3 linked regions of the Homo sapiens genome follow. The protein of the gene in region 1 purifies or fractionates together with the protein of each later gene. This does not show direct contact. Each region holds a gene or a part of one and is shown on either strand. Other genes may lie near its edges. The genes, in order: FCSK, DNAJB8 and RNF123.

What was found.
Region 2: the proteins of FCSK (region 1) and DNAJB8 purify together in Homo sapiens (co-immunoprecipitation; one large-scale study listed by IntAct). This does not show direct contact.
Region 3: the proteins of FCSK (region 1) and RNF123 purify together in Homo sapiens (affinity purification with mass spectrometry; one large-scale study listed by BioGRID and IntAct). This does not show direct contact.

What each region holds. Positions count from the first base shown.
Region 1 is NC_000016.10:70,457,506-70,461,154, reverse strand, and holds part of FCSK (L-fucose kinase), read right to left. Parts: intron 1-3,649.
Region 2 is NC_000003.12:128,463,976-128,468,082, reverse strand, and holds the start of DNAJB8 (dnaJ homolog subfamily B member 8), read left to right. Parts: upstream 1-1,192; 5' UTR 1,193-1,469; intron 1,470-2,646; 5' UTR 2,647-2,807; intron 2,808-3,969; exon of another isoform or gene 3,970-3,972; 5' UTR 3,973-4,107. UniProt on the Homo sapiens protein: Efficient suppressor of aggregation and toxicity of disease-associated polyglutamine proteins.
Region 3 is NC_000003.12:49,706,532-49,710,180, forward strand, and holds part of RNF123 (E3 ubiquitin-protein ligase RNF123), read left to right. Parts: intron 1-259; coding exon 260-367; intron 368-3,649. UniProt on the Homo sapiens protein: Catalytic subunit of the KPC complex that acts as E3 ubiquitin-protein ligase. Promotes the ubiquitination and proteasome-mediated degradation of CDKN1B which is the cyclin-dependent kinase inhibitor at the G0-G1 transition of the cell cycle.

The sequences.
Region 1 (3,649 bases):
AGGCTCTGCTGCCACCAGAAGAGAAGAGGCTGACAGGACACCACCACTCAGCAACACCCACGCCTTCAGGAAAAGCCTCTGTCAGAAATTGCTCCATTCCCTACTCAGCCCAGCAGGGAAATCCAGAGGGGAAATTCCAGCTAGAGATCCCAGCCAGGCACTTGAGGGTGAAGGCTCCTCCCAGGATGCCCACCAAGCCCTCCCTCCAACTTTGCCACCAATTTACTGTATGGCCGTAGGCACGTCTAACCCTCAGGTCAGCTGCAGCAGGGAGTGTAACTAACAGACGCCCCCAGCTGCTACGATCTGAATCTCCCACCTTGTTTACATGGAGGCCACGCTTTGAACGAACCTTCTCACAACCAGTGACTGAGCACAGCTGGGACACTGAAACAGACCTATTCCTGTGAAATTCCAGACTCCTCTGGCAGGCAGCTTAGAACTGCACTGCCACCTGGGCGCAGTGGCTCACATCTGTAATCCCAGCACTTTGGGAGGCCAAGGCGGGCAGATCACGAGGTCAGGAGTTTGAGACCAGCCTGGCCAATATGGTGAAACCCCGTCTCTAATAAAAATACAAAAATTAGCCAGATGTGGTGGCACGTGCCTGTAGTCCCAGCTACTCAGGAGGCTGAGTCAGAATAATCACTTGAACCCAGGAGGCAAAGGTTGCAGTGAGCCAAGATCACACCACTGCACTCCAGCCTGGGCGACAGAGCGAGATTCTGTCTCAAAAAAAAAGAAGTCCAGGCACGGTGGCTCACGCCTGTAATCCCAGCACTTTGGGAGGCCGAGGAGGGTGGATCACAAGGTCAGGAGATCGAGACCATCCTGGCTAATGCAGTGAAACCCCGTCTCTACTAAAAATACAAAAAATTAGCTGGGCGTGGTGGCGGGTGCCTGTAGTCCCAGCTACTCGGGAGGCTGAGGCAAGAGAATGGCATGAACCCGGGAGGCGGAGCTTGCAGTGAGCAGAGATCACGCCACTGCACTCCACTCCAGCCTGGGCGACAGAGCGAGACACCGTCTCAAAAAAAAAAAAAAAAAAAAGAGGCTAGACGTGGTTGGCGGCTCACGCCTATAATCCGAGCACTTTGGGAGACAGGGGCAGGACTGCCTGAGGTCAGGAGTTTGAGACCAGCCTGGCCAACATGGTGAAACCCCATCTCTACTAAAAATACAAAAATTAGCCAGATGTGGTGGTGGGCACCTGTAATTCCAGCTACTTGGGAGGCTGAGACAGGAGAATCACTTCAACCTGGGAGACAGAGATTGCAGTGAGCCGAGACCATACCATTGCACTCCAGCCTGGGCAAGAAGAGCAAAAATCTATCTCGAAAAAAAAAAAAGATGAAGAAACTGCTGGGTGTGGTGGCTCATGTCTATAATTCCAGCATTTTGGGAGGCCATGTCAGGAGGATCGCTTGAGCCCAAGAGTTAGAAACCAGCCTGGGCAACATACAGAGACCTGGACTCTACAAAAAAAAAAAAAAAAAAAGACGGAGAAATGAGGCACAGAGAGATGAAGTAACTTGCCAAAGCTAGCAAGTGGCAGAGTGAAGTTTGAAACTAAACTTTTTTTCCAGAGTATCTATTTTATTACCTTTTTTTCTTTCTGAGATGGAGTCTTACTGTATCCCCCAGGCTGGAGTGCAGTGGTACAATCTCAGCTCACTGTAATCTCCACCTCCTGGGTTCAAGCAATTCTCCCTGCCTCAGCCTCCCGAGTAGCTAGGATTACAGGCATGTGCCACCACGCCTGACTAATTTTTGTATTTTTAGTAAAGACAGGGTTTCACCATGTTGGCCAGGCTGGTCTCAAACTTTTGACCTCAGGTGATCCACCTGCCTCGGCTTCCCAAAATGCTGGGAATGAGCCACCATGCCCGGCCTCTTTTTTTATTGTCTTTTTTACTTTTTTTTTTTTTTTTAAAGACAGGGTCTCAATCTGTCACCCAGACTGGAGTGTAGTGGTGCAATCATAACTCACTGCAGCCTCGACCTCCCAGGCCCAAGCAATCCTGCTACCTCAGCCTCCTGTATAGCTGGGACCATAGGCACATGCCACCATGCCTAGCTAAGGTTTTCACTGTTTGTTTTCTTTTTAAGAGATTGGGTCTTGCCACATTGCCCAAGCTGGTCTCAAACTCCTGGACTCAAGCAATCCTCCTGCCTCAGCCTTTTTTTTTATTAATTTATTTTTAAATTTAATTAATTAATTTTTAAATTCATGCTCCCCACTACAGGGTCCACTTGCTTAACCACTACAATAAACCTACTTTGTAGAGCTGAAGTACAAAAGGAGGAAATATATGTAAAGCACTCAGTATGTATTATCTATTATAATTATGACAAAGCCTAAACAAATACAAGGGAGGGATGATTTTAGTAATAATAGCCACTAGGATGCCAGGCATGGTGGCTTATGCCTGTAATCCCAGCACTTTGGAAGGCCAAGGCAGGAAGATTACCTGAGGTCAGGAGTTCGAGACCAGCCTCGCCAACATGGTAAACCCTGTCTCTACTAAAAATACAAAAATTAGCCAGGCATGGTGGCAGGCACCTGTAATCCCAGTTACTCGGGAGGCTGAACCTGGGAGGTGGAGGTTGCAGTGAGCCAAGATCACGCCACTGCACTCCAGCCTGGGCGACAGAGTGAGATTCCGTCTCAAAAAAAATAAAATTAAAATTAATAGGCCGGGCATGGTGGCTCACGCCTATAATCTCAGCACTTTGGGAGGCCGAGGCGGGTGGATCACCTGAGGTCAGGAGTTTGAGACCAGCCTGGCCAGCATGGTGAAACCCCATCTCTACCAAAAATTCAAAAATTAGCCAGGCATGGTGGCGGGTGCCTGTAATCCCAGCTACTCAGGAGGCTGAGGCAGGAGAATCGCTTGAACCTGGGAAGCGGTGGTTGCAGTGAGCAGAGATTGTTCCACTGCACTCCAGCCTGGGTGACAGAGTGAGACTTTGTCTCAAAAAAAAAAAAAAGAAAGAAAGAAAGAAAAAAAATTAATAATAGCCACTAGGACTGAGCACTCTGGACCACAGTTAAGGTGCTGTGATTTTTTTTTTTTATCTTGACAACACCCTTAGACCCTGCAAGATAAGTATTATTATCTCCTATTATCTCCACTTCACAGAGGCCAGGAGACGCTATAGTCAAAGTTGCAACACACCTGGGTCTTTTGGATCCTTATTCAGGTGATAGTGATAATGATATCTGGTCCCAAGCAAAGGCACTGAAAGACAGCAAGAGGCCAGGTGCAGTGGTTCACACCTGTAATTCCAGCACTTTGGGAGGCCAAGACAGGCGGATGGCTTGAGCCCAGGAGTTTGAGACCAGCCTGAGCAACATGGCAAACCCCATCTCTACCAAAAAAAAAAAAACAAAAAACCACACACATACAAAAATTAGCCAGGCACAGTGAATGTGCCTATAGTCACAGCTACTCAGGAGGCTGAGGCGGAAGCATTGTTTCAGCCCTGGGGGCAGAGGTTGCAGTAAACTGGCACCAATACATTCCACCCTGGGTAACAAAGCCAGACCCTGTCTGAGGAAAAAAGAAAGAAAGAAAGAAAGAAAGAAACCCTTGAAATGGCCAGATGTGGTAGCTCACATCCGGAATCCCAGCACTTCGGGAGGCCA
Region 2 (4,107 bases), on another chromosome or scaffold:
CCTCCAGCAGGCCCTATGGAGGCCTCAGAGCCCCTGATGCTCCCCACTGGCTCCCCAAAAACTGGCGTGGAAGGAGACTAGCCTGAACCCTTTGCAGAAGGGAAACTCCTCTGCACACTGCCCGGCTCCACGGTCCACAGCTCCCTTCATGGGGAGCTCCCCACAGGGGCCTCCATCTCAGGATGCCCTTGATGGTGAGGTGTGGGACCTGCTCCCAGGTGACACACCTGTTCCCGTAAGTCCTACCGAGTGGTCTGTTCTGTGTGCCCTAAGACAGCCCTGAATGGGCGGCAGTGAGGGGGTCTCCAGCCCTGTCTCCATCCTGGCTGACTCCCACAGACCCATCCCAGGAACAAGGGTTGGAGCAGGGCAGTGGCTGGAAGAAATTTCCCCTGGGAGTACAACGCAGACCAGAGCCAGGGTCTCCAACAAGGCAGGGAGGGCCAGGACGGGGAGGCGGCCACAGGATTCTTGGATGCCTCATCATACTAGGTCCTTTGTCTCTTAACATTGTTTTCACCACCCCTCCTCCACTGTCCTGATTCCATCGTCATGGAAACTTCAGGCTTCACCTTTACAATGTCAGGCCACCAACACCCTCAGCAGTGTCACCATCACCATCAACACCCCAGCGTCCCATCCCCATCTCCTCTACCACTGCCACCAGCCCCACTATCACTATCATCTCTGTCACCGTCACCACGGTGCTCTCCACCCGTGTCAGCATTGTGTCACCACCACATCACTGTCACCACACTTCCTCCACCTCCATCTCCACCCACCATCCCATCTGTGACATCACCTTATCAGCTCTGCCACCAGTATCAACCACTCACACCGCCTTTGCCATCACCACCGTCATTGCCCCCTCTACTACCACCACCATCACCACCACCGGGTCTGCCTCAGCCAGACCCACCACTGCCTCTAATTAGACTGCCACCATCATCACTGCCACCACCACTGCCCCTCCAATGCCTTCCTGATGTCACCATCTGCTTTCTCTCTGCTATCCTCACACCCAACTCCATCACAACCACCACCTTCATCTGAGCCGCCATCACCCTCACAGTACACAGCCCTCAAATGTGTACCAAGGAGGAGGACATTTACTACACGCTGCACCCTGAACAGTCTGGGACCAGCGGTCAGGGAACAAGGAATCGAGATGCTCACCTGCAGCTCCCAGGTGAGCGGCTCTCTAGAGCTTGCCTGGGAGCTGCTGAGGAGCTCACGGTATTCCAGGAAGCTCCCCATCCATGCCTCAGCCTGTGGCTCAGAAGCAGGGTCTTCGCAGAAGATTGCCCCGAGCTGTTGCAAAGCTCACCATTGTCACCTGCCTGCAACGGCCTCTCTTTTCCACTCTCCAAATCCCTTGTATTGGCAGGCTCTAGTCTGGAATTATACCGGTGATGGGATTCTGGAAAATCCCTCAGATTTCTCCAGGATGCAAGGAGACCATGGAAGAGGTTGGTGTAATGCCAAGTTAGCAACAGAAAATACAGAGCCCCACACCTCAGTGCCATCACCATCGCCATCGGCACTCACACCAGCATGTCCACCACTGTGTCCTTCTCACCCCTCGGCACCCCCCTCTACCATTGCCTCTTCCACAACCACCCTCACCACCATCCTCCATTAATAGCACAATTCCTGCCTCCTATCCCATCACCACCACGGGTGTCCCCGGCACCAGCAGCACCAACACTGCTCCCAGCAGAGCCATCGTTACCAGCCCCGCTGTCAGTCCCATCTTGAGCATCTGGCATATGTTGGAGAACTGCTCACTCCCTCTTCCCCATGGGAATCTCAGGCCTCTCTTCCTATTGCCCTGAGATTTGCAGAACCTTCCTGAAGGAAACATTCTTTGCCCCATGGATACTGGCCTTGACCATGGGATGCAGCAAGACTGCCACACATCATGGCCCAACAGAAGCTTTCAGAGGCAGCCCAAGTTCCTGCTGTCTCTGAGTGGCACTGTCATGAGAGAGGGGTGTGCAGGTCAGAGCTGATTCTCCAGCCTGGGACCCACAGTGAGAAGCTATGGGAGGTGGGGCCCTGGCAGCTGCCTGTAGGCACCAGTGAGTGAAGTGGGGGGAACTAGATGTTTGTCGTGAGCCACTGAGAGGTGGAAGCTGTCACTGTGGTATAGCCGAACAAGATACAACCTCTGCTACCTCCACCACCTTCACCTTCATCATCACCATTACTGTCACCACTGCCAACCACACCAATGGCTCACTAGGAGCCATTCCCATCACCTCCTCATCATACCTGCACCATCACTGCCAACCACAACAAAGGCTCGCTGTTACCATCTCCTCTGGCATGACCATCACCACCACCACTACCATCATCAATTACTCTCAAGCACAAGCCTTGCTGCTGTCACCACCAGCATCACCATCATCATGATCAACTCCACCATCACCCATAATTACTCTCCCCCTCACACCCACCATGACCATTACCTCCACATCAACACTGCTCCCATGGTCACCTCTACTATATAATGACACCTTATCCATCTCCATGGACACCCACCGTGCCTCTCCCCACCAGCAACACAGTCAACAGCAGTGCCTCTCCCACTGCCACCGCCATCATGGAGAACTGTGCAGGGCAAGCATCTTTCTCCCGCCCCAGGAACAAGCCTGCAAGGGACAGCAGGTGCTAACTGCTAACCGAGACATAGTGACAAAAATCCAGCCACAGAGATAAAGAATCAGGTTCATCTGTAGCTACATCCAGTGGAGAAGTTCTGCTCTTCAACTCCTCTGCTAAGCCACATGTGTCAGCAGGTGTAGGTGGGTGGATGCCCAGCATGGGGGTGCGAGTCGTGCTTTTGATAAGCTGCATGGAGGGACAGCGATGGTCACTGGAGGCTGGGTTTACAAAGTGTCTCTACAGTCTGTCTCCATTCCTCCTGGCATTTGGGATTGGTTAGAACACACACTGTCCCCTGCTAGGAGCCTGAAACCTAGCACCCATGAGCACTGAAAGAAAAGAGAGAGAGGGAGGATAATAGAAAGGGATGAAGACTAGAAAAAGGAAGAGGAGGAAGAAGGGAGGAATGAAGGAAGGAAGGAGGAAGGAAAGAAGCCAGGAGTGAAGAAGGGAGGGAAGGGAGAAGGGGGAAGGGGAGGGAGGAAGGAAAGAAAGAAGGAAGGAAGGAGAAAGGGAGGAAGGAAGGAAGGAAGGAAGGAGGAAATGAAGGAAGGAGGGGGAAGGGAGGGAGGGAGGAGGGAAGGAAGGCAGGGAACGGAAGGGAAGGGAAGGGAAAGAAGGAGGGAAGGAGGGAGGGAGGAAGGGAGGAAGGAAAGAAGGCAGGCAGGAAGGCTATCTTTAGTTAAGACTTGGTGACCCAAACATCTAGGCTCTTTATTGGTGTGGTTAGTAGGTGGTTTAGCATGGTTTTGATCTTAATTGGAGTGGGGTGAGGTGAAGGTAGGAACAGATATTAATCAGTATTGTGAATTGCTGTTTCTATATATGATCCAACACCAGAACAAGAATTAAAGGAATATAAATGCCTAAGAATATTTGGTTACCTCACTCACCTGATTCGTTTTCTAGGGCTGTTACAAATTATTACAAACTGGGTAGCTCAATACAAAAGAAATCTCTTCCCCCAGTTCTGGAGGCCAGAGGTCTGAAATCGAGGTGTTAGTGGGGCCGCACTCCCTCTGGAGGCTGCAGGGAGAACCCTCCTGGCCCCCAGCTTCCAGCTGCGTCAGTGTCCATCTCCTATACGGACATGTGTCACTGGATTTAGGGCCCACTCAGATAATCCAGGATGATCTCATCTCGACATCCTTAATTTAATTACATCCGAAAAGATCCTTTTTCCAAATAAGCTCACATTCAGAGGTTCCAAGGATTAGGATAGGAACATATCTTTTTGGGGGCCACCATTCAACCCACTACAGTCAGTAATCAATATTTATCATCAATTCCTATTTTTCTTACCAGAATTGAGTGGAACACTTCTTTGGATTTGCTGTCCGCTGCAGCCTTGGCCCTGGTTTCACATCCCCTCCCTCACTGACTCGCTGTGTGACCTTGAGCACTGTGTGTCTCTGAGCCTGGTTCATCCAAGAGTTTACC
Region 3 (3,649 bases), on another chromosome or scaffold:
CCCTGGGTGCTCTGGCCAGCGGCTCACAGACCCCCAGCTGGGCCTCACTTCCATGTCATGAGGGGACCACCATGGCCTTGTTCTGAGGCTGGCTCAGGGTCACCAGAGGGTCAGTGGCAGAAGAAGGTTTTGAAAAATGGAGCCCAATCCCTTGCCTGCTCCAGGCACTAGAGGGCCCTTCCTAGGCTGCCTGCAGGATCAGGGTGGACCTGGGTATGGGGCCATGTCTTGATTGTCCTCCTTTCCCCTTGGGTGGCAGAGGAAGGACATCCTTGCAGAGTTGACCAAGAGCCAGAAGGTTTTCTCAGAAAAGCTGGACCACCTGAGCCGCCGTCTTGCCTGGGTCCATGCCACTGTCTACTCCCAGGTGTGCTGGTATTGCAGCTGCCCCTTCCCGACCTCACTGTCTGGCCACGGGTCTAGCAAGATTGTGCCAGGGCCCTTGATGCCCCCACCCTCTCAGGCCTCTGGCACACACATGTCCCTTCCCACACTTCAGACTCCATCACCCCATGCCATGTCCCCTGTACCCCTCATGCTCTGTGGACTGAGGAAGCGCAGTTTCTGGACCTCCAGTTCGCCTCATAGACCTGTCCTTCGAGGAACAAACTCTGTCTGTCTGCCTCCCCTGCTCCCACCCCCTCCCAGTTTCTTGGCCCCCGTCCTTCTCTCCCAGTGCATCAGGGGCTCTGCAGTCTTTCCCGGAGGCACACTCCACCATCTGTGCCTGCCTCTGTCTGACTCATTACCACCCGAGGCCACTGGCTTGTTCCCCACTCACTCATTCACTTGCTCATTCATTCAATAACATGCACTCAAAACCTGGTGTGTGCCAGGTGCTGTCCTGGAACTAGGGACACACACACATTAATAAGTCAGAAAGATGAGCCTCTGCCTTCTGAAGGCACTCAGCCTGGTCAGATACATGGATGGACAGACAGATGGATGGGGCACTCCTGCTGTGACTGAAGTTTCACCCCCAGGCCTCAGACTCTCTGGACTTGTTTCCTCTCCCTGCCCCTCTTGGCATCTCTTCCCTAACCAGTGAGTGCCCTGAGGGTCTCTTCAGGTGCCCAGGTCAGGGTATCTGCTGTCTTCTTGGGCATACCCCTGCATGACTGGGTGATCGAGGCCTTTGGTATCCCCATTTCTATCATCTCTGCTTGCTGTTTCTTCTCATGGCTCTTTTGCAAAACCCAAACCACCTCCACCTTTTTCCCATTCGTGACTCTCCTGCTACCCTGGATGACCGTGCTTACTGCCCCATGACGGGAACTTCCTCTCCCTTCTGCCCTGAGATTTCCTGCCTGCCCACCTCCCTCAGAAGTTTGGCTGCCCTCTCCCACACTGTCTTCTCAAGACCCTTGCCCTCTCATCTCTCTGCCTTTTTTTAGTTATGCTAAAATATGTGTGACATAAAATGTACCATCCTAGCTGTGTTTTTTTTGTTTTGTTTTGTTTTGTGTTTTTTTTGAGACAGAGTCTCACTCTGTTGCCCAGGCTGGACTGCAATGGCATGATCTTGGCTCACTGCAACCTCTGTCTCCCGGGTTCAAGCAGTTCTCCTGGATTATAGATGTGCTACCGCGCCCAGCTACTTTTTGTATTTTTTGGTAGAGACAGGGTTTCACTTTGTTGGCGTGGCTGGTCTCAAACTCCTGGCCTCATGTGATCCTGCCACCTCGGCCTCCCAAAGTGCTGGGGTTACAGGCGTGCGCCACTGTGCCCGGTCACCCATCATAGCCATTTTTAAGTGTTAAGTCTATTCACATTGTCGTGCAGCCAATCTCCACACTCATTTCATCTTGCAAAACTGATACTCCGTGCCTGTTGAACAAAACCTCCTGTCCTCCCTTCCCCAGCTTCCCTGACAGCTCCCACCCATCCCCACCTGTCAGCAGATCCCTGGGTCTGGCAGCTGGGGGAGCAGTGGTTCTGGCATCAGGTCCCTGAGTGCTCTGGCCAGCGGCTCACAGACCCCCAGCTGGGCCTTACTTCCATGTCATGAGGGGACCACCATGGCCCTGTTCTGAGGCTAGCTCAGGTTGCCCCTGGCAACCACCATCCTACTTTCTGTCTCTGAATTTGACTATACTAAGCACCTCATCTAGGAAGAATCATACACTATTTGTTCTTTTGTGTATGGCTTTAGCATAATGTCCTCAAGGTTCATTCGTGTTATAGCATGTGTCAGAATTTCTTCATTTTCCAGGCTGAATAATATTCTGTTGTACGGACACCACATTTCATATATCCAGTCCTTTGCTGATGGACACTCGGGTTGCTTCTACTTTGGGCTACTGTGAATAATGCTGTAATGAACATGGGTTTGCAAAGATCTCTTTGAGACCCTAATTTCAATTCTTTTGGTTATATACCCAGAAGTGGAATTACTGTATCATATGGTAATTCTGTTTTTTATTTTATTTTTAATTTTAATTTTTTATTTTTTTTGAGATGGAGTCTCACTCTGTCACCCAGGCTGGAGTGCAATGGTGCGATCTCGGCTCACATCCTGGGTTCAAGTGTTCTCCTGCCTCAGCCTCCCGAGTAGCTGGGACTACAGGTGCGCACCACCATGCTCGGCTAATTTTTGTGATTTTTTTTTTCTTTTTTTGAGGTGGAGTTTTGCTCTTCTTGCCCAGGCTGGAGTGCAATGGCGCGATCTCGGCTCACGGCAGCCTCTGCCTCCCAGGTTCAAGCAATTCTCCTGCCTCAGCCTCCTGAGTAGCTGGGATTACAGGCATGTGCCACCACGCCCAGCTAATTTTGTATTTTTTTTTTTTTGAGACAGAGTCTCACTCTTTCACCCAGGCCGGAGTGCAATGGCGCTATCTCAGCTCACTGCAAGCTCCGCCTCCCGGGTTCACACCATTCTCCTGCCTCAGCCTCCCGAGTAGCTGGGACTACAGGCGCCTGCCACCACGCCCGGCTAATTTTTTGTATTTTTAGTAGAGACAGGGTTTCACCGTGTTAGCCAGGATGGTCTCGATCTCCTGACCTCGTGATCCACCCGCCTCGGCCTCCCAAAGTGCTGGGATTACAGGCGTGAGCCACCGCGCCTGGCCTAATTTTGTATTTTTTTTTAGTAGAGATGGGGTTTCTTCATATTGATCAGGCTGGTCTTGAACTCCCGACCTCAGGTGATTCGCCCGCCTCGGCCTCCCAAAGTGCTGGGGTTACAGGCGTGAGCCATCGCGCCCTGCAATTTTTGTATTTTTTGTACAGATGGGGTTTCACCGTGTTGGTCAGGCTGGTCTTGAACTGCTGACCTCAGGTGATCCGCCTGCCTCGGCTTCCCAAAGTGCTGGGATTGCAGGCATGAGCCACCGCGCCCGGCCAATTCTGTTGTTTAATTTTTTGGAAACTACCATATCATTTCTACAGTGGCTGTGCCTGTTACATTCTCACCAGTAGTGCATGAGGGTTCCAATTTCTCCATACATATCCTTACCGACACTTCTTATTTTCTGCCCTTTTTTTTTCTTGGTAGACGCAGGGTCTCACTATGTTGCCCAGTTGTCAAACTCCTGGGTTCAAGGAATCCTCCTGCCTCGGCCTCCCAAAGTGCGGGGATTATAGGCATGAGCCACCACACCCGGCAATTTCTACTTTTTTAATAGTAAATCCTAATGGGTAGGATATGGTA